Regions from separate parts of the Homo sapiens genome. Here region 2 is linked to region 1. A link means that fine-mapping ties the variant in region 1 to the plasma level of a protein whose gene starts in the linked region. Region 1 holds a variant in brackets. A gene starts in the other region. All regions are shown on their forward strands.

Region 1 (11,245 bases):
CCACCAAGGGCTCTGCTCCAGCCTCTCAGAGAAACAGAGGCCTGGGCTCGGTTCCCGGGCCCTGCAGGGGCAGGCCCAGGCAGCGTCAGCCGGAGAGCTTCTCCCCGACCAGCCCAGCCCCAGGATGTGTCGCACCAGCAGCTCTGCCTGGTTGGCCTGCAGTGCCGTGGTCTGCGTGCTCTGCAGCTGTGAGACGGGGGCGGCCTGGGCTCTCTTCCCATCCATGTTGCCTACCTGTGCCCCTGGCAGCCGCGTGTCCACACAGTTAGCGGAGCGCGGGACTTCTGCAGTCCTCAGGTGACCCCGGGCCTCCAGCACCCTGGGTCGCTGTCATCTGTGTTTAGCTCGGGGAGTGCCCCCTAAGGGGGCGAACTGACCTCAGGCATGTTTTGTAACTGTAGAGGCGCCTGCCATTAAACGTGTCCGCTGCTGTGGCGACAGATCTGATGTTTCTAGAGTCTTCTGTCCTTCGGGGTCAGACAGCACCTGCTTCTGTAAGTTTCTGGGCTGGACTGGGCCAGGCCGGCAGGTTCGTTCGTTCCGTTGTCAACAAGCCCCTGGGCCCAGGTGCTGATGTGTTTGCATCTTATTTGGTGGGAATTCGGGGAGATTTTGTGATAAACCTGACAGCTGGCCCCTTCGCCGTGGAAGAATGGCCTCCCTGGGACACTAAAGGGGCCCCTCCCGGGACAGAGACCAGAAGTCAGGTTGAGAAGGGAGCTCCAATCCCAGGGGTCCCCTGCACCTCTTCCCAGTGAGACCCGAAAGGAAAGCCCTTCCAGAAAGCAGAACGCGCCATTTTTCCCAAAGGAAGAGCTCAGCCTTCAGCAGGGGAGGACCCTGGAGGTGGGGGCCCGGAACCAACCCGGGCGGCCTCTGGGTGGGTGAGAGGGCACCAGGAGCACCTGGGCTGACGATGCCGGTGCCTGGGGGGGGCAGAGACAAACGCCCACGGCATCTGCAGGGGGTGCGGCTTCCCACGCAAGGCGGACGGCCCGCCCCGCGCTCCCTCCTCACCCCACCTCAGCCGCGCCCTGGCTGCCTGGACCACACCCCTCGGGGACACTGCCTGGTCCTCAGGGCGATCCCTCAAAGAGGAGGGGTGAGACGCAGAGCCCCTGGGGATTCGAGTTGGTGCCATCATTCCTGGAGGATGTTCTGGGGAGCCCGAGGGGCAGCCACGGGGACCAGGAAGACACATGGGTGTGGGGCAGTTGGCCAGGGCGGTGGCGGGGCAGGATCCAGGCGGGGGCCCTGGGCGTGGCCAAGCCGGGGAGGAGAGAGGTGAGGAGACCAAGGCGTACCCAGGCAACACCATCCTCCCCTCCCCTGAGCCAGGTGGGTTTTTTTGAGACAGGGTGTTGCTCTGCCGCCCAGGCTGGAGTGCAGTGGTGCAGTCTTGGCTCACGGCAGCCTCTACCTCCCAGGCTCCAGTAGTCCTCCTGCCTCGGCCTCCCTAGGACCACAGGCATGGGCCACCATGCTATGCTAATTTTTTTTATTTTTTGTAGAGACGGGGTCTCTCTTGTGTTGCCCAGGACGGTCTCTCAAACTCCTGGGCTCAAGCGATCCGCCCGCCTCGGCCTCCCAAAGCTCTGAGACCACAGCTGCGCGCCGAGCCCCCAGCCCCCTCCCTGGTTTCACGTTCGCAGTCACCCACTGTGCCTGTTAGATTCGATTGCCTTTGCCTTTAATTGATGACAGCTGGGGGGGCCGCCATGCCTTCCACCCCATCAGGCCCTTGCGTCTTCCAGCAAGTGCACTGGGCAGGCCCCTGAGGACACTGAGGACCTGTCCCCAGCACAAGGTGAGCCAGGTGGGGGCCTGAGTCCGGGGCTTGAGTCCGGGGACCTGGTCAGCAGGGAGCAAAGTGGGCCTCGCTGAGGTCCCGCAGGTCGAGCCCCACGACCTCGGGCGGGCTGGCACAGGTGATGTTGTTGTAGGTGTACGCGGGCGGCTGGCAATCGTCCCCCTCACAGATGGCCTGGACGAAGCGGGGCACAGCACTGGGGTTCTGCAGGGCGAAGTCCCGCAGCGCCTTGAGAGGGCAGCCACAGTCCCAGGGGTTACCCTCCAGCCACAGGCGCTCCAGGCCCGGGGGCTGCGGCGTGAAGGTCCGCAGTGAGTTGTTCCTGAGGCTGAGGTAGCGCAGCCGCCCCAGTGGTGCCAAGAGGCTGTTGGGCAATGCCTCCAGGCGGTTGTGCGAGACGTCCAGCCAGAAGGCCCGCTGCAGGGGGCCCAGGGCGTCCGCCGGCAGCTCTGCCAGGCGGTTGCGGGAGAGCAGCAGGTACTCCAGCTTGCCCAGGCCCTGGAAGAGGCGGTGGGGCAGGTGCGTGAGCTGGTTGGAGGTCAGGTCGAGCTCCAGCAGCTCCGCCAGCCCCCACAGGCTCTGCTCCTCAATGCCCACGAGGCCGTTGTCCTTGAGGAAGAGTCGGCGGAGCCCCGAGAGGCCGGTGAAGGTGTGCGGGCGGATGCGTCCCAGGCAGCTGCCCTCCAGGTGCAGGCTGTGCAGCTTGCCCAGGCCCCGGAACACCTGCTCCGGAAGGTTCCGGAGACAGTTCCCAGAGAGGTTCATGACCGCCACGTTGGTGAGGCCGAGGAAAGCGCCCGCCTTGACCTCCTGGAGCTGGTTGTGGTCTAGCGTGAGCACCTCAAGCTGCCCCAGGCCCTCAAAGCTGCGCTCAGCCAGCTGCCGGATGCGGTTGTGGCCCAGCTGCAGCTCCTCCAGGAAGTGCAGGTCCTTGAAGGTGCGGGGCCGCAGGCTGGCGATGGCGTTGTGGGACAGCCGCAGCACACGCAGGCCCAGCAGACCG[G/A]GGAACGTGTCCTCCAGGAGGCCAGCCACGCGGTTGTGGGACAGGTCCAGCCATCGCAGCGCCTTCAGGCCCAGGAAGGCGCCCGGGGCCACGGCAGCGATGAGGTTGCGGTCCAGGTAGAGTTTCTGGAGCCGGGGCAGCTGCACGAACACGTTTGCCTTGATGGCCCGCAGCGCGTTCCTGCTCAGGTCCAGCTCCCGGAGCTCGGCCAGGCCGCTGAAGAGCGCGGGCTGCAGGTAGGCCAGCCTGTTGCCCGCCAGCACCAGCTCGCGCAGGCTGCCCAGGCCGCGGAACGCCGCATCGGGGAGCACCGCCAGGCTATTCCAGCCGAGGTTGAGGTCCCAGAGGCTGCCGAGGCCCTCGAAGAGCCCGTCCTCCAGCCTGCTCAGACGGTTGTTGCTGAGGCCGAGCGAGGCCAGCGCGGGCGTGTGTGCAAACGTGCCGAGTGCCAGGCTGCGCAGCTGGTTCCGCTCCAGGTGCAGGTGGCACAGGTTCTCTAGGCCCAGCAGCGCCTGTGGCTCCAGGCTGCCCAGCTGGCCGCCCTGCAGGTTGAGGAAGCCCAGGCTGGAGAGGTTCTGGAAGGCTGCCGGGGGGACGGACGAGAGGTTGTTGCCGTCCAGCCACAGGGCTTGGGTGCCGCCCGGGACTCCATCAGGCAGGCGCGTGAGGTTCCTGGAGCTGCAGAAGACGCTGAGCTCATCCGCGTCGTCATCGTAGCTGCAGACACAGGCGGCCGGGCACGCTGGGCCCTCGGCTTCCCCCGGCGTTCCGGGGTCTGCTCCCTCCAGGCTGCGGGGGCCCAGTGCCACCCAGGACAGCAGCAGCAGCGCCAGGGCCAGGCCTCCTGCGGGGGGAGAGGCTTGGGGAGGCGGCCCGAGGAGGGCTCTGCCCGAGTGAGCCTGATACCAGCACAGCCGGAAGCGGCGCTCAGGTGTGAACTGAGGCTCGAGGTCACCCGCTGAGATGCGAAGAAGCCGGTGAGCCCCACAGGTCCTCCGGCTCAAAAGCTGACACTGCGCTTCCCACCCCATGGGACAGAGGAGTGGCCGCCCCGCCCCGCTGCACAGACGCTCAGGGCTTGGCTCTCCAGCTGTGCGCAGGCCACGTGGGCTCGGCCAGGCTGGGTCTCGGGCTGTCTGGCCATGTGGCAGCCGCACCCCCAAGGCAGGCGCTTGAGCCAGGCCAGTCTGCCACGTTGGCCTAGAGGAAGGGGAGGGAACTGAGCCATTGGCCAAGGTCCGGCCATTTTCAGAATATTCTGCAGCAGGTCTTGGTGGGCACTCGCTCACTGCCCTCAGAGGCTGGACAGGGAGCTGGGCACCTCCTGCCCCAGTTAGGCCCCCCAGCGGGGTCTCACCTGCCTGCATCCAGGCCTTGGTCGGGTGCTGCGGGAGGGGACCGGGGCACCGCCGTCGGGGGACAGGTAGGAACCCTGGACCGTCGGCCACCAAAGCTCACATTGCCTTTCAGGACAAGGGGCCACAGGCCCCACAGACCCAGCCAGCAGGCTCCCAAGCAGCGATGACCCAAAACCTCTACTGTATGGCCCCCCCATCCTCAGAGAGTGTGGAATTGCTGGGATGGTGGCAGGGGCGAGGTGGGGCCCCCCCGACTGCCCTTCTGTCACGATGGGTTGGGAGTGGCCTGAGCCAGCTCTGGAGCTCAGCTCAGGCTTGGGGGTGGCCGAAGCTGCAAGGGGTCACCCCACAGAGACAATGGGGTGTGAGCCAACGTCTCCTGCCTGGGCCGGGCCCACAACGCGGGCCGTGCGGGGCACTTCCCGCCGCTGTGCTGGGAGCTGAAGGGTCCGGCCTGCACCTGGCCCTCCTCCCCTGTGCCGCCGCCAGCGCCCTTAGGGTGGAGGACGGGACAGAGACCCCTGGTGCCAGGCACAGCTGTGTCCCCCTGCCAACCCCAGCAGCCGCATTTCCGACTGTGGGCTCCCCAGAGTCCCCCGCAGACCCCCAGAGCTGAGCCCCCCAGAGCTTCCTTGGGGGCTACCCCGGCCTCTCCCCAGCGGGCTCAGGGTCACAGACTGGCCACCCCTAGAGTGGGTGGCGGGGCACTCGGGGGCCTCACCTTTCCTCAGGGCCATCCTGCATGCAGGGCAGGCTGCAGGCAGGCAGCGAGGGAGGGTACGTCTGCTGTGCCGGCCACCCCTGCCCTCTGGATTTCCCCACTGCGGGGCAGCCCGCGCCTGTCACCTGGCTGGCCCAACCCAGCTGGCCCTGGCTCTGTTAACCCCCTCGTGCCGGGCGGCCGGCATCAGCCCGGAGCCCTGGGGTGCAGACAGTGCAGGGGGTGAGGGAGCTTCAGTCGGGGCCCGAGGTAGCCGTAATGCGGCCCTGGGGGCTGACGGCCAGTGCCCGGGCCCCCTGCAGGGCTGACTGGGGAGGGCTGGGCAGCCAGGTTGGGGTGGGGACCCCTTGCAGCAGCCTGGGAGGGGCTGGGGCTTGAGGCCGGTTTGGGGAGCCCAGGGTTTTACCAGGTCCTGTTGCGGGCAGGGGGCTCCTCGGGCAGCTCCTGGGGTCTTGAGCCCACCCCTGGCCTGAGTAGCCAGCCGTGTGGGGCTAAGGGGCTGCCGCCCCTTCCCCGTGCCCCACCCAGCCATCCACCCGCCCTCCCGGGGGTTCCCTACAGCCTGGGTGGGAGCTGCCGTTTGGGCTTCAGGCCCACGGTGCTGTCCAGGGCCCAAGCTCACCCTGCCTCTCCCGTGACCCCAGGGGCGCTGGTGTCTGGCCACTGCCCCGCCCCCAGCCTCTTCTAGGAATGCCTGGCAGGGCTGCAGGCGCCTGTTTGCTTTTGCCCTGCGCCATCCTCGGGGAGTGTGTGGGGGTGGCCTGGCCATGGGAGCCAGGTCTTGTGCCTCAGACAAGCCTCACCTGCCCCTTGCTGTCCCCCAAGGCTCTGGTGAGGGCCTGGCCGCCCCACAGTCACCGCTTGTGTGCAGAGAGGCCACAGGAATGTGTGCCCAGCCATGTCCAAGGCCACCCCTGGGCTCCGTCTCCACCTGCCTCCAGAGGCCCCTGGTTCCCCTCCACCTGCTCAAACCACTTCCCAACCAGTCGCTCTCTCCCCCAGGGCCTGAGCAGGTGCAGCCCCTCCCCTCCAGGTCCCTGCAGGCCCCTCCCCTGGCTGTCAGTGGGGCCTGCCCACCAGTCCCTCGGCAGTGGGAAAGTGTGCAGGGAAGCAGCCGGAAGGGGTGCAGGCGGGGGCACAGCCAGGGCTCGGGGAGACCACAGTTTTCCAGGGCCCTACCCCATCCTCAGCTCCGGCCTCACCTGGCAGGCCCCGTGCAGAGCTGTGGGAAGCCGCCGGCCCACTGTCATCGTCTTCCCTTTATCGAGAATTGATCATTTTCCAGGTGGCGTCTCGGCTCCTCTTCTGAGAAATTATAGATCCACGGGGAGAAAGTCCACACCCAGAAAGACCCACGATCCGTTTACTCAGCAGAAAACGCAGACTCAGCAGGGGCCTGGGGCCTGAGGCCAGCAGACCCGGGCGGCCTCCTCTCAGGAGAGGTCCCCGTGGGGGCCCCGGCCTCCGTCAGGCCGCGCACCCCACCTGGGAGCCCCACACATTCCAGGTGGGAAGGGAGAATCTGTCCCTGTTCTCTTCCTTTGGGAGGGGCCGGGTGTCGCGGGCGGGCAGAGCCTCACCAGGGTTGCGGCAGCCGCGTAAGGGGGCTCCAGGCCTCTTTGATTCCTGTGGTAACGCAGAGGCCTACACACACATTCAGCCCATTGAGTTCCAGAGGCCCCCATCACTGCCGCCACCCCCAATGGCCCCACTCCCCGTGGCCTCTCCCAGCTCAAGGCCGGTGGCCTCCCAGGCTCCTCCATGAGCCGCATTCTGCCTGTCTTCAGGCCGCACAGGGCCTGGCTTTCTGTAGGACAGGACCCGAGGGAGGTGAGGCCATGTCTAGGTCACGTCCTGGAATACATCTGTCCCTGTCCTTCTCACTGTTTCCAGCAATGCCACCGAGCCCTGTGGCTCTGCATCCTGTGGGTGCATACCTGTCTACACTCAGGCCAGTGGCGAGTGGACGGTGGCCATCACCTGGGAGACCGAGCATCTTGTCCAGCACACAGCCACAGGGTCATCTGGCCTCAGCCACTGCTGGTTTCGGTCTCTTGCCGATTTTCTAGTTAGCTGGCTGATTTCTGATTTGCAAGATACAAGAAAAAACAAAAGCATTCAGCACGCACACTCAGGTGTGTGGCCTTTCTGTCCTCTCGTTAGGATTCTGGTGAGTTTTTTTTTTTTTTTTTTTTTTGAGATGGAGTTTTGCTCGTTGCCCAGGCTGGAGTGTAATGGTGCGATCTCAGCTCACTGCAACCTCTGCCTCCTGGGTTCAAGCAGTTCTCCTGCCTCAGCCTCCCAAGTAGCTGGGATTATAGGCATGAACCACCACACCTGGCTAATTTTTATTTTATTTTATTTATTTATTTTTTGAGATGGAGTCTCAGTCTGTTACCAGGGCTGGAGTCCAGTGGTGTGATCTCCGCTCACTGCAACCTCCACCTCCCATGTTCAAGCGAGTCTTCTGCCTCAGCCTCCCAAGTAGCTGGGATTACAGGCATGAGCCACCACGCCTGGCTAATGTTTTGTATTTTTAGTAGAGACAGGGTTTCACCATGTTGGCCAAGCTGGTCTCAAACTCCCGACCTCGGGTGATTTGCCGGCCTCGGCCTCCCAAAGTGCTGGGATTACAGGTGTGAGCCACCGTGCCCAGCCCCTAATTTTGTATTTTTAGTAGAGACAGGGTTTCTCCATGTTAGTCAGGCTGGTCTCAAACTCCTGACCTCAGGTGATTTGCCTGCCTTGGCCTCCCAAAGCTCTGGGATTACAAGCGTGAGCCACCGGGCCGGCGAGAGTTCTTAATTTTAATTGAGATGATATCCCTTAAATGTTGAGGTTGATTCCTCAGATACCAACAACAAAGATGATTTGGTTTGGCCTCACATCCCCACCCAAATCTCACCTTGAACTGTAATAATTCCCATGTGTCAAGGGCAGGGACAGGTGGAAACAACTCAATCAGGGGGCAGTTTTCCCCATACTGTTGTGGTAGTAACTCTCATGAGACCTGATGGTTGTTTTTGTTTTTTGTGTGTTTGTTTGAGATGGAGTCTTGCTCTGTCTCCCAGGCTGGAGTGCAGTGGCACAATCTCGGCTCACGGCAAGCTCCACCTTCCAGGTTCATGCCATTCTCCTGCCTCAGCCTCCCAAATAGCTGGGACTACAGGTGCCCACCACTACGCCCGGCTAATTTTTTGTATTTTCAGTAGAGATGGGGTTTCACCGTGTTAACCACGATGGTCTCGATCTCCTGACCTCGTGATCCACCCGCCTCAGCCTCCCAAAGTGCTGGGATTACAGGCGTGAGCCACTGCGCCTGGCTGAGACCTGATGGTTTTATAAATGGGAGTTCCCCTGCAGACGCTCTCTTGCCTGCCGCCGTGTAAGACCCTCTGCCTTCCGCCATGATTGTGAGGCCTCCCCAGCCATGTGGAACTGTGAGTCCATTAAACCTCTTTCCTTTATAAATTACCCAGTCTCAGGTATGTCTTTATCAGCAGCATGAGAAAAGACTAATACAGTAAATTATTACTGTAATAATTATTATTACAGTGGGACACTGCTGTAAAGATACCCAAAAATGTGGAAGTGACTTTGGAACTGGGTAGCAGGCAGAGGTTGGAACCGTTTGGAGGGCTCAGAAAAGGACAGGAAGATGTGGGAAAGTCTGGCGCTTCCTAGACTTGCTGAATGCCTTTGACCAAAATCCTGATAGTGATATGGCCAACAAAGTCCAGGCTGAGGTGGTCTCGGAGAAGAGGAACTTGTAGGAAACTGGAATAAAGGTGACTCTTGCTATGTTTTAGCAGAGACTGGTGGCATGTTGCCCCTGCTCTAGAGATTTGTGGAACTTTGAACTTGTGAGAGATGATTTAGGGCATCTAGTGAAATAAATTTTTTTTTTTTTTTCTGAGATGGAGTCTCACTTTGTCACCCAGGCTGGAGTGCAGTGGCGCAATCTCGGCTCACTGCAACCACTGCCTCCCATGTTCAAGCGATTCTCCTGTCTCAGCTTCCTGAGTAGCTGGAACTACAGAAGCACGCTGTCACACCCAGCTAATTTTTGTATTTTTAGTAGAGACAGGGTCTCACCATGTTGGCCAGGAGCGTCTTGATCTCCTGACCTTGTGATCTGCCCGCCTTGGCCTCCCAAAGTGCTGGGATTACAGGCATGAGCCACTGCGCCCAGCCAGTGAAAGAAATTTCTAAGCAGCAAACTGTTCAAAATGTGACCTGGATGCTGTTAAAAGCATTCAGTTTTATGTATTCACAAAGATATGGTTTGGAATTGGAACTTATGTTTAAAAGGGAAGCCAACCATAAAAGACTGAAAAATTTGCAGCGTGATGATGCCATAAAACAGAAAAGCCCATTTTCTGAGGAGAAATTTAAGCTGGCTGCAGAAATTTGCATAACAAGGAGCCAAATGTTAATCACCAAGACAGTGGGGAAAATGTCTCCAGGGCATGTCAGACGTCTTCAGGGCAGCCCCTCCCATCACAGGCCCCGAGGCCTAGGAGGAAAAAATGGTTTAGTGGACCAGACCCAGGGCCTTGCTGCTTTGTGTAGTCTCGGGTGCCCTGCCTCCCAGCCATGGCTAAAGGAGCCAAGGTACAGCTCAGACTGTTGCTTCAGAGGGTGCAAGCCCCAAGCCTTGGCAGTTTCCATGTGGTATTGGGCCTGCAGATGCCCAGAAGTCAAGAATTGAGGTTTGGGAGCTAGGTGCAATGGCTCACGCCTGTAATCCCAACACTTTGGGAGGCCGAGGCAAGTGGATCACCTGAGGTCAGGAGTTTGAGACCAGCCTGGCCAACATGGTGAAACCGTGTCCCTACTAAAAATACAAAAATTAGCCAAGCATGGTGGTGCACGCCTCTAGTCCCAGCTACCTGGGAGGCTGAGGTGGGAGAATCACTTGAACCTGGGAGGCAGAAGTTGCAGTGAGCCAAGATCATGCCACTGCACTCCAGCCTGGGTGACAGAGCAAGACGCCATCTCAAACATAAATAAATTAATAAATTAAAAATTCAGGTTTAGGAACCTCTGCCTGGATTTCAGAGGATGTATAGGAACTACTGGATGTCCAGGCAGAAGTGTGCTGCAGGGGTAGAGTCTTCACAGAGAACCTCTGCTAGGGCAATACGGAAGGGAAATGTGGGGTTGGATCCCTCCACAGGGTCCCTACTAGGGCACTGCCTAGTGGAGCTGTGAGAAAAGGGCCACCATCCTCCAGACCCCAGAATGGTAGATCCACCGACAACAGCTTGCACCATGGACCTGGAAAAGCCACAGACACTTGTCACAAGCCTGTGAAAGCAGCTGGGAGGGGGGCTGTACCCTGCATAGCCACAGGGGTGGAGCTGCCCAAGGCCTTGGGAACCCAGCTCTTGCATCAGTGTGATCTGGATGTGAGACATGGAGTCAAAGGAGATCATTTTGGAGCTTTAAGATTTGACTGCCCTGTTGGATTTCAGATTTGCCTGGGGCCTGTAGCCCCTTTGTTTTGGCCAATTTCTCCCATTTGGAATAGGTGTATTTACCCAATGCCTGTACCCCCACTGTATCTAGGAAGTAACTCACTTGGCTTTTGATTTTACAGGCTTATAGGCAGAAGGGACTTGCTTTGTCTCAGATGAGACTCTGGACTTGGACTTTTGGGTTAATGCTGGAATGAGTTAAGACTTTGGGGGATGGCTGGAAGGGCATGATTGTGTTTTGAATTGTGAGGACATGCGGTTTAGGAGGGGCCAGAGGTGGAATGATATGGTTGGGCTGTGTCCCCACCCAAATCTTATCTTGAATTGTAGTTCCCATAATCCCCACATGTTGTGCACGGGACCCAGTGGAATGGCCGAATCATGGGCGTGGTTCCTGCCATCCTGTTCTCTTGAAAGTGAGTTCTCATGAGATCTGATGGTTTTATAAGGGGCTTCCCCCTTCACTGGGCACTAATTTCTCTCTCCTGCTGCCATGTGAAGAAGCACATGTTTGCGTCCTTACCCACCATGATTGTAAGTTTCCTGAGGCCTCGCCAGCCTTGTGGAACTGCAAGTCAATTAAACCTCTTTTCTTTATAAATTACCCACTCTCAGGCAGTCCTTTATAGCAATGTGAGAATGGACTAATGCAGATGGGAAAACGGCAAAATTCTTAATGTCCTCTATTTTATTTTTACGGTTTCAAGTACTATTTTGTGCCAACACTGTCCTGTTTTCCCTTCTAATCGGCCTCTTAAGAGGGAGAGGCCAGGCTCAGGGTTAACTGTTCCCGTGTGGTGGTTACCATCAGCCTCTGTGCCGTTTGGTGGAAGGGGTGTCACTGCCCATCATAAACCAAGCCCATCTAAGCCT
Region 2 (11,245 bases), not on the chromosome of region 1:
ATCAGAAATGTCCCTCTAGACAGGCTGCCACAGCAGAGAACCTGGAATCCCATTAGGGTACCCTCATCAACAATGGTGATTTTTATTTTTCCTAAAGTGTGTTGATTTGATAACTTAATCTTAGGAAGCTGTTGTTGTAGCACCTGCATCACCTTGACTCCCATGGAGGAGACCACCCTTACTTGTTCATTTCTGTGTGTGTCTGCGTGCAGGTTGCTTGGGTACATGTGACCTTAGGGGTTAGTGGAAGCAAAAGCCCCAGGGAGCAGAAGTTGCCTGAGGAAGATGGCAGAGGATCAGAACCAAGGCAGGGAGGTAGAAGAACTGGAGGGTCCAGAGGAGAATGAGAGTATGCAATTTTAAGGTATTTACTGGAAGTGGCAGGAGAGCATTTAGAGGGAATAGTTGATCATAGGTATTGTGTCAGGGTTTCCCAGAGAAACAGAACTAACAGGTTATATCTATCTGTCTGTCTATCTATCTATCTATCTATCTATCTATCTATCTATCTATCTATCTATCATCTATGTATCTATCTCTGTCTAATCTACCTATCTATCTAATCTATCAATCTATCATCTATCTAGTCTATCTACCTACTTATCTCTAATCACCCACCAAAAAAGACTTATTACAAAAAATTGGCTAAGTATGGAGGCTAAGTCTCACCATCTGTAATCTGCAAGCTGGAGAACCAGGAAAGCTGGTGGTGCAATTCTGCCCACGCAGACAGAAAAAAGGCACAAACCCTTCTTTCCTCTGCCTTTTGTTCTATTCAGAACCTTAATGGATCGATGGATGCCTGCCCACATTGGGGAGGGCAATCTATTTTACTGAGTCCACTGATTTAAATGCTAATCTTATCTGGAAACACCTTCACAGATACTACGCTCACAGTATCACCCTCACAGATGCTGTACCTGGGCACCCCATGGCCCAGTCAAGTTGACACATAGAATTAATCATCATGAAGTGTGGGAAGCAGCAGAAGTTAGAGGTTAAGAAATGAGGACAAGAAAGGGCACATGAGTTGGTGGCTCCCAGGAAAACAAACCCAGTGGGCTTAGAAGGCAAGCATTATTTTGTAGCTCATAGCTCTTCAGCAGCTCCCAAGAGGTTGCCACGTTCCGGTCCTGGATTTCCAGACACTTGGCCTCGCTCCCCAGGTGCTCCAGGATTCTGCCGCACAACTCTCCGTGACGCTTGGTGCCTGCTCCCTGCAATGGGCTCCTTCTGCTCACTGTCTCCCTCCATCCTCACAGCCTTGCAGTCACAGCACCCCCAAGGGGCCTGCTTTCTCATTTGTCCTGGTTTCTCATGTGATCAGCCTGAGACCACACACCACAATACCAGTCCTCTGAACACTTACAGAACCGGCTTGCTGCTCATCACATACAACACGTGATAAGGGTATCATTTTAGATGTTTCATCAACAAATCAGACATGGCGCTAGACAGGAGGTAACTCGACAGGAGGTAACTCTTCGACTGCAGTTTATCCTTGGATGCTCTGAAGCCACAGGCTCAGTGTTTTGTCTAAAGTGGCTTTGACAAGTAACAATTCTTCCAAGGCTGCAGATGAGGGGGCTTAGATCCCAGAACCCCTTCTGCTTGGAGCAGAGAAGGGCCACTCTCTGATTGGAGATGGGAAGGGGACAAAGCGGTAAAGGACACGAGACTGAATTGCTGAGTGTCTGTTCTGGTCCTTCCCTGCTTGTCTGTGGATGGCTGCTAGTGTTAGATGGGACAATACAGGACACAACCCAAAAAAGGCAAGGACCAGTCACATAGGTGCACATTGCTGACCTGATCAAACCTGGGCCACAGACTGTCCCAACAACACAACCTCCTAGAATTGGACCATCTTGCAGATATGACCCAATGCCTCCATAGGCTTCCCACAAAGCCATGGAAACTGACTTGGGTTCTTTTGCTAAAAGGGAAAGCAGGGAAACATTTGTGGTTATGAAGTTTTCCACTACAGCTAAAATATTTTCCCCTTTCAGGATTTTATTATAATAAAATAATTATTATATAATAAAATAAAATAATTAGTGATACAAAGCCCAGAGATGGTCAATAACAAAGGGAAAGATATTTTTTTAATGGTAAAAACTTTATTTACTATTTATAAATACATTGCAAGACAAACTTCTCAAAAATACTTTTCCCCCCAAAAAGTTAAAAAAATAAAGAAAAGCTAATAGGTAGGCAGAATGTCTTGAGACCCCTCTGTTTTCAAGGAGAGCTCTATGCAGCGTGTGTCCACACCGAGGTCTGCAGCAGGGCAGAGTCTCCCTGAGCCTGACTTTGCCAGACCTTCTTGGGTTTGGCCTCCGGGAGAGCAGCCCAGTCTCTGGGCGTGAGCTCCTTTCCTCAGTCATGGCCACAGTTGTATCATATAGCATCTCTAACATTTCATCTAGGATTATCTAGTATAGATCTTACTATATTTGGGGCTATGTTGTATACAATGTTAACAAGAACATATCTTCTCTGCATATATGTGTGAATTATAAAGAAAAGCATGAGAATGACTCTAAGTTCAACAAACATGGGTGAATCTCTATGTGCTCCCAGTGTCCTGGATGGGCTCCCCAGCAAGCCATTCCTCCTTCCTGTTCTGATATTACTATTCTTTTTTACATTGTGCTAAGGAGGACAAAAGATGAGAGATGAAAATAAAGCTTTGCCTTTAAAGAGCTTATCCTCAGAAATAAGCTTCGTCTTGAGTTGTTGAACTACAAAACACTATTTTCTGCAGTCATCCGAAGAATTGTGCCATTACTTGTGATGCCTCTGAATGTGGAGGCTGACTCTCCCTGTCTCTCTGTCCCTCCTACCCCACGGGGCCGCAGCAAAAGCCATCCTGGGCCTTCGACTGGGCCATGTCTTCAGGAAGATTCCTGAAGAGGAGGGCCCGAAATACCTGCCTTTATAGGTTCCCAGAGTGCCCTAGAACATTCTTAGATACATATTTTTTAAACAAGTAGGACTCCACCTTATTTTCTCCAATAGTCCCCAAGCAGTACAGGTCACTTGAAGACATAAACATTCTTCTTGGTTGAGGGATCCACGCCCTTGTTTCAGAAATGACACCACAGAAGGCTGTGAGCTCCAGGAGCATGCGTTGGGATGTCCGGATGACCGGGGTTTAAAGGTTTTCCTATTCTCGATAAAGCCTGTGCGCACTGTACGGGGAGTGGGGGTGAAGCGTGTTCTCTACATAGGCAACACAGCCGCCTAAGTCACAAAGTCAGTGGTCGGCCGCTTCGACCAACATGTGGTGAGCATTCCACGGGCGCATGAAGTCTGGGTGCTGTGCTCGAGTCTCTGAATATTTTGATAGGAAGCGACAAGAAAATTCAAACTGCTCTTTGCTGACTACTGGAAAGTGAAAAGATGCTCAAGTTTACCATTCAAAGAAACCATAGGCATTTCAAAAACCTCTTTCTAAACTTTGGTTTAAAAAAAATCAGTTCACCACAAACAGAAATATAAATCGAGGCTGTAGCCAGCTGCTGGTCATGTCCTTGGCAGTCTTTTGTGCAAAATAAGGCATATTTGAGCTCCACATTAACTAAAACAAAAAGAAAAAGAAATATATTGAAATAATCCCCCCAAAATCAAAAGGGCTCGACTCTTGCCCTGAGATATCCAGCACAGCCTGCAGGCTAATGGCACTAGGCCTGCAAGTGCAGGGCTGGGGTCTCAACTCATGTTTTCAAACAAAGCAACGAGTACCAGATGCTGCTCACAGTGTTCATTGTCAAAGAGTTACCCTTAAATTAGAATTATTTTTTCCAACTTGTAAGGAAAAAAGAAACCCTTATAACTAAACATGCAAATTTCTTCTGCTTACTAAATTTGTCTTAATAAAATGAAAGAAAATGTATTTATTCCTTTCCCCCAATAGTTCCCTCATTTATTAAAAGAAAAAAGAAGACTGGATATAATAGCATTCTCTAAAATTATCGTTTAAAATTTCATTTTTCTATCAGATTTAAATTAACTTTATTAAAATTATATTAGCCACAGACTAACAGAATATTCATTATATATTTTACAGAAAAAAAAAGCTGCATCTTCAAACTGATGCTCTCCCAACTGAGCTATTTCAGCTGTCTCACATTCACATCTTTAATTTAGAAACATGTATCTTTAGCAGGTTCTTGCGGATTAAAACGGTTTCTCTGTGAAGATAAATGGACCTCCAGACCTCACGGGTAAAGCCTAACTTTGAAAATCTTCACTTTGTGTGTGGATGAATGATAGCTTAGGTGCTGTGAGGTATCTGAGATAAAGCAGAGTGTCCCTGAGGTGCACTGGCCGGCCTCCTTCCCCACACTTGTTTGGTTGGGTTGATGGGGTCTCCCTCTCCCTGCACCCTTCTGAGGGCTCTGTCCTATTTGCTTTGCTCTTTCTGGCCCTGAGCTGCAGCTCCTGGGTCTGTAAGCCTGGGGAAGGGCCAGTGGCCACGCCCAGCCCCTGAGGCTGGTCCAAGGACAGTGAGGCCCTGGAGCCCCAGGCTGCCCCTCCTGAGTACTCACCCTTGCGGCAGGCGTCTACTTGCTCTGCATGCTGTAGCAGTGCACGTCCTCCTTCCCCTTGGTGGTGTAGCCTGGGAGAGGCTGCCCATACTTATCCACACACCAGCAGAAGCCCCGCTTCCTGCCTTTGGAAGGGCGACACTGTGGGAGAGAAACAGAAGACAGAGAAGTGAATGCTCCTGGGTCTGGTGTCAGGTCGGTGGCCAGGGCGCATGATGGTTTGCCAGCGTGACTCTGCTATGCTGAGAAAGCACAACAGAAATTTCAGCTAAGGCAACACAAGAGCCATGCGTGCCTAGGCCCGCTGAGTGTGCGCCTGTGCATGCGTGTGGGTGTAACTTCCTGCTCCAAGAAAGCGGGGGTGGGGGCAGTTTTGTGTTTCTAGGAGTATAAGGTGGACACCAGCCCTTGTAGAACCTCTTGACTGACTTCTCTGCCAAATGTGGGACTGAGAACATCCCCGCTGCCTGCGAATGTCACAGCTATGACTTTGGAGCCCACATCCAGCCTCACATGACACCTTCTCAGTATGACTTTGTTGAATGAATATGACTTTGACAGAAAACGTGGGTATAAACGAGCAATGGCAATGGAGGAAAGCTTAGGCTTTCTGACTGTGGCCACTACTATGAATCCTAGTATATGGTCACCCTGAGGCCACTGTGGCTCACTTAGGTCTCCAAAGGCCAATTCTGTAGATAGCATAGTATCAATTGTCCAATTAGAAAGCCAATTGAAATAGTGCCATCACATAACACAAAGCCTATAGAAGCATATTTATTACAGCTTAATATTACTATATCTTAAATTTGTTTGATCATTTTCAGGTTAATTGGGATTTTAGGCATATGACTACATTTGGGGCTGATGTGTAGCCAGGATTCTCACTCCATTCCTTTTCCAGGAATGGGACTATGTTGCAATATAAAGATTTTGAAAAGACTGTTGTTTGATGTTGATGACTCTCATGCCTTCTTCTCACTTGGACTTTCTAGGGAAATGCCAGTGAGTCGGAGGAAGACCACATGGCCAGTTTGGAGAGACTGGCCATCCCCAGCATGGACCGAGTGTCTGATTTCAAGTTCCATCCCCTCCACGCCAAGACAGACACCTGGTATGTGCTGGGGATGGCTGGGCTCTCCAAGCTGGCCATGCTGCAGTCATCCCCCCACTCACTAGCATTTCCTTGAAAAGCCCAAGGGAGACAGAGACACACGAGTCACCAACATCTAGCAACAGCCTTTTCAAAATCTTAATATTGCAACCTGCTCACTATCGGGAAGGCATCAGTAGGAAAGGGGACGATTGTGGGATTTCAGGGTAAGCTTTTTGTGGTATGACCTCATGTCACACTTCTTGGAAACTGACTATAATAGTTGTTTGAAATGTCACTCCCTGACGCAGCATTAACAAATGTGTTAACATGTCCACTTGCAGTTTATAAAGGGTGCCACTGGGCAGCATCTTGTCCGCCCTGTGGGTGAACCATTGAAAGGACAGGAGTGGGAAGCGGGTGGTGGAAAGGCACTAGGGTTGAGGATTATGGCCAATATAGCAGCACTCAGAGCAACAAGTCAAAGCAGCCCTTGGTCTGACCTCCTGAGACTGGCACCAAGTCCTGGGCACTGGTGCTGCACAGGCTCAGAGTTAGAGCTATGGCCAGAAGAGCCTGGGGGCTGGTGAGATGGGTTTCTCCTCTGTGTCAACAGAAGAGGAAGAAAACACACTGAGGACCTCACTCACCTGCTTTTTCTTATAAAATCCCTTCTTGTCACAGTTGGGAATGTGTACACCCCTGGGACTCAGCACATTGAGGAACTTCAGGTGATTCAGTGTGTCTTCCATTTCTCTACGGCAGGGACCCTGGGGATCAGGAAGGACCAGAGCAACAGAGTCACAGTTTTTACTCTAGAATGTGTGCTTTAAAAATCTTACGATGCTGCACAACTACCAAAAGTGGGACCTGTAATTTGCTCCTCAGATACCTTATGTCTGATGTAGCACGAAAGTCCCCCGAATAAGCTAACCATCACTCCCTGTCTCCTTTTTGCTCTTCCCAGAGTAAGGCACAGAAGCTGGTATGGAACCAATAGCAGGTCAACAAGCATAGAGGATGAAGTAAATAAAACTATCTTTATGAGAATATTTTTCATTATCTGCAGAGGTCTTTATGACATCCCATATGCTTTTAAGAGTGTTATTTCAGCTTGATCCTCATAAGATTCTCCAAAAGGGTCAATATTCTTTATGTAAGGAGAGGAGAGAGGTAGGGCACAGAGGGGCTAGGGGTTGCCCACCCATCAGCCAGGCGCTGGGGTTTGTTGAGTAAGAATTGCCCTCAAGAGGCTCTGAGTACCCAGGCTTGGCAGGTCTTGCCCTCCTCCTTTAACAAGAGGAAAAGCTCTCACATATTCTGTCTCCCGCTTGGACTCGGAGGAGAAGTTCTGGGTATCTGTGCTCTGAGACTCGTAGTCAACTTTGTAGCGCTGGCTGTCTTTAGCATGCCCTTTCTTGATGATGATTATCTTTGAATGGAGGGGGTGGAACTTGGGATCAGACACCCGGTGCGTGCTGGAGACGGACGGGCTCTCCACACTGCCGGCGCTGCGGTCTTCCTCCGACTCACTAGCATTTCCTTAAAACGCCCAAGAGAGACAAACACATGAGAGTCATCAATATCTATCACAGTCTTTTAAAAATCTTAACGTTGCAACCAGGTCACATGTAAATGACAATATTAGTTGGCAATCCAAGTGAGTTTTTTTTTTTAAAATACCTCGATGAAGTATTATTCCATCATACTACTCACTACATGGTGGTTGCTCTACCTCAAGAAGTTATCTGTTTGAAAGTCAATCTGACAGGTGCTCTTCCTAAGTAGCTGCAACTAAAGAAGGCAGACAAACGCTTCAGTGCCCCTCAGTAGGTGAAGGCAGTATGCTTCATCTTCCACCGGCAGGGGGCAGACCTGAGCCACGGGAGGCTGCTGCAGCGCCGGCTCAGAAATTTTGCAGTCAACTCCAAGTGTGGTCCTCCCACCCGCGGGAGCAGCGGCAGCCCGGGGACTTGGAAGAAATGCACATTCTCCACTCCGGAAACGCTGGAGTGGCGGCAGCAGTCTGAGTTGTAACAAGCCCTTATGGGAATTCCAAGGTTGACCAGTACCGTCCTCAATGCTACCAGGTAAACACGCTTATAAGAGCTTGGTGTCCAGCTCAGATGGGAAAACTGAATTATTACCTGCAAAGCGTTTTGCCTCAGGGGCTCAGAATCATGCAAGCATGTTGGTGGCTTGTTTTCTAGGTCCCCGTTACATCTCTAAAACTCAAGGTCTACACAGACCCTGTGCATCTTGCTGGTGCCTGCCTAAGTGAGTCCTTTTCACCCCGGGTGAACACAGCAGCACATGGATGCAGACAATGCCAAAGTCCCACTCACGGCTCAGACTTCTAAGTGCCAAAGAGCTTTTCCTTCCCTGGGTGGGGGTGGGGTAGGAGAAATCCCCCTCCAGCAGATCTCCCTTTTATAATAAAAAGTGCTAAATGAAGAAAGTCTGATGCTTAAAATGGATGCTGGAATGTTAACAGTTGAATTGGAATTTTAAGTATATGACTAAATTCAAGACTGGATCTGCAGCCAGGATTCTCACTCCATTCCTTCTTCAGAATGAACTTGGAGGGGCTGTAAGACCGCTATGGGGATCAAAGGCTACATTCAGAGCCCATGCTCCCAGGGCCTGTGGACCATGCCAAGGTCTGGAGGCATCGGCTTAAGTCCACAATTGAGAGTCATGAAATTTCTCTACTACAACAAACAGGGCTATAATGTGTAACCCTAGCAGGGAGCTCAGGTGGCCCATCTGGTCCACAGTCTATTCTAGAAAGCTACCTGGGGCTGCAATGATTTGGCTGCAGATGCTCTGCTCTCCCCTGGAAGTGGCTACTGGCAGGTCACTCACCAGGGCCTTAGGAAAGTCCCTCTCCTCTCTGGGTCTTAGTTTCCTCACCTGCCAAACAGCTCACTGAGGTCCTGCTGTAAAGTTCCCCAAGGGGTTTCATACCTTGGGAAGCACACATTCCCAGGGTCCAGCACAGAGCCTCACAGAGGAGGTCCCTACCTGCGAGGATTTGGTTTCAATTTCTTTTAATCTTAGCTTGCTTTCTTTTTCAAGGAAATACTGAGATAAAAGAGATACTAAGAATGTAAATACTCTAAGAACATGTAAATAAACGTATTTATACTTCTTTTCTAAGAACCTTGAGTAATTTCTTAAATTTCCTTGGTTTCTTCTTAATGCCTGGGCTGCAGACTAGGGCATGAAGACAAAACAGTTCTATTTAAGCAACAGATAATTGTGACTTTTGACTGTCGAAAATTTACCTTTTTTTGTCAAATAGATTCTAGAAGTCACTTAGATCTTTTTATAATCTTATAACTCACATCAACCTATACTACAGTGCTACTAAGGTGGTAATCATGATGATTGCTAAAGCCCAAGAATGACGATGTGTATCAGTATTTCTAAGATCACTTTTTGAATACCCCAAAATGCACAATAATGTACGACACTTGGCAAATGACATAACTTTGCCCCGAGAGACAAATGCCTCCAGCAGCTTTAACAGCTGACCAGAGCCAGTGTATGTTTCAGGCATCTTGCCTTTCCATGAATCCAGCATTTCTCAGGGGTGAACAGAGCCAGCCTTGCCGAGCCAGAAAATAACTTCACCCGGGCGTGGAACTCTACAGCTACATAAATTATAAAGGGACTGTTCATCCTGCTAGCCCTAGATGGGGGCCTGCCCAGTGACATCTGTCCAACGTGATCGTTGGGGAGTTGGGGGAATTAGGATGGGGAGAATTCTCCCAGCCTTCAGCTGTGCAAGGCAGGAACTTTATTTCTCATATAACTAGGTGAGGCTGGCTAAGAATGCTTGAAAGAACAGCTGCCAAATCCATTTAAACAACCCCCGCTCCTTTTTTTAAGGGAACAATGTGATGCCCTTACCAGAGTCGCTGTCTGCCTGATACTGATAGTGGCTAAGCCAAGAGGGTAACTCTGCCAAATGTTTGCATTTTTCCTCTTCTGGGGCTCCCCTTAACAACATCTCATTCCCCCCCCCATTTCAGATTAAGAAGGGAGACAGCCCTAGGACTGATTCCAATTCCCTTCCGTGTCATTGAAATTGACTTAGTCCACATTGCCCGCACCCACCACGCACCTGGAAGTTTGTTTGAGGTCGGCGCAGGTGCAGGGGTGGCCCGAGTTGTAAGAATGGTATGGTACTGAAAGTGGCACGCGGAGTTCAAACCTACACTCTGTTGTGGCCGCTGGGTAACCTTAAGAAGTTACTTCTTTTTCAGCTTCAGGTTTTCCAACCGCAGAAGATATCAAAACCCGAATCCACTTTACTTGTTTTTGGACATACCGGGACTAGACATTGCTTTGCAAACCAAAAGGCTGTGCAAAGTCAGTATTTTAAAAGAGAGGTACTATTTCCTACAACGTGCCTGCCCACCTTCCTTGGTCCAAATCCGCCTATATCCCCCCCATCCCCAAGCATCCCTGGGATTGCAGTCCGTGTGCACCCCCGTGCGGGGCGAGGAGAATCTCCTGTGTCCAGGATCTTTCCAACAGCTAAACATCGGTACCGCTCCCCTCAGCTCCGGAAACCTTTAACCCATTTTCACTGAAAGCGCTTTGCAATTTACAAGTACTCTGCACTTAGAGAATCGAGCAAGTAGAGGGCCGGCTGGGGAGGGTCCCTCCGGCGACCGCCTTCACCTTTCCCGGAGCGCCTTCAGTTTCCCCACATATTATCTCCAGTGAGAAGAAAAGCGGAGTCTCCCGCAGCGGCACCCAGCAACCCCCAGGCCCTTCGGCGCCAGTGCGCCGGGTGCTGCACGCAGCGCACCTGGCGCGGGCGGCTCACCTGGAGCTGGCGGCGCTGGCAGCAGGTAGGCGCGCAGGCGGCTGACGGCACTAGCGTTGACGCAGAGCCCGCGGCCGTCCAGCAGCGCCTGCAGCGGTCGCGCCTCGTCGGGCGACGGCTGGCAGCGAAGGCCGGAGCCACAGCGCTCGGTGTAGATGCCGCACGGCTGGCCCTCGCTCAGTGCGCACGTCAGGCAGCAGCCGCAGCCCGGCTCGCGCACCAGCTCCGCGCACACGGCGGGCGGAGGCGCGCACTGGGCCAGTGCACGCGCGTCGCACGGCTCGCAGCGCACCACGGGACCCAAGCCCGCCGAGCTCGCGCCAGCCCGCGCCACCGGCGGCCCGCGGAGCAGCACCAGCAGAGTCAGCGCAGCGGCCCAGAGCGTGGGTCGCGCCCGCTGCATGACGCCTGCAACCGGGGCACGCTGCTTGGCAGGCTGGGCGCGCAGGGATGGGGCGACAGTACACGGCGCGAAGCTGTGGAATCCAGGCAGGAAGCGGCTGATCCTCAGCGCCCAGCCGCAGTGCTCGCATCTGGGCGGCCCGGGCGCGCCGGCCGCTATATAGAAGCCGGGGTGGCCCAGGACACGCCCCGGAACGGCGCGCCCAGGAGTGGGGGTTGGGAGGGGGGCGGGTCGGCGCAGGCACGGCTGCGGGGGCCCGTGCTTCGCCCTGAGCAGCCGGGGCCGAGCTCGGGGGCGTGCAGCTCGAGACTCGCCCGGGCACCTGCTCCTCGTGCGCACGCCCGGAGCCCGGGTCACCT

Which allele goes with the higher level. Alleles are on the strand shown, and positions count from the first base shown. The strength of an association depends on the size of the effect and on how common the allele is.
As copies of A replace G in region 1, the plasma level of the protein whose gene starts at base 11,018 in region 2 goes down (moderate association).

The links. PIP is the posterior inclusion probability: the model's chance that the variant is causal. Protein levels are from antibody-based Olink assays in UK Biobank. Linkage for the fine-mapping came from a reference panel and not from the study's own genotypes, which makes the PIPs less certain.
Region 2: it holds the start of IGFBP3, and the variant in region 1 is fine-mapped to the plasma level of the IGFBP3 protein (UK Biobank, PIP above 0.99).

What each region holds. Positions count from the first base shown.
Region 1 is chr16:1,788,745-1,799,989 of GRCh38, forward strand. NUBP2 (NUBP iron-sulfur cluster assembly factor 2, cytosolic) reads left to right here. Exons shown (of 7, transcript NM_012225.4): 7 at 1-442. IGFALS (insulin like growth factor binding protein acid labile subunit) reads right to left here and starts at 4,961. Exons shown (of 2, transcript NM_004970.3): 1 at 4,893-4,961; 2 at 1,669-3,657. The coding sequence starts at 4,908. The coding sequence ends at 1,856. The variant G/A (reference allele first, on the strand shown) is at 2,814.
Region 2 is chr7:45,910,255-45,921,499 of GRCh38, forward strand. IGFBP3 (insulin like growth factor binding protein 3) reads right to left here and starts at 11,018. Exons shown (of 5, transcript NM_000598.5): 1 at 10,484-11,018; 2 at 6,959-7,185; 3 at 6,294-6,413; 4 at 4,551-4,691; 5 at 1,991-3,580. The coding sequence starts at 10,886. The coding sequence ends at 4,566. RefSeq lists an enhancer at 10,821-11,245.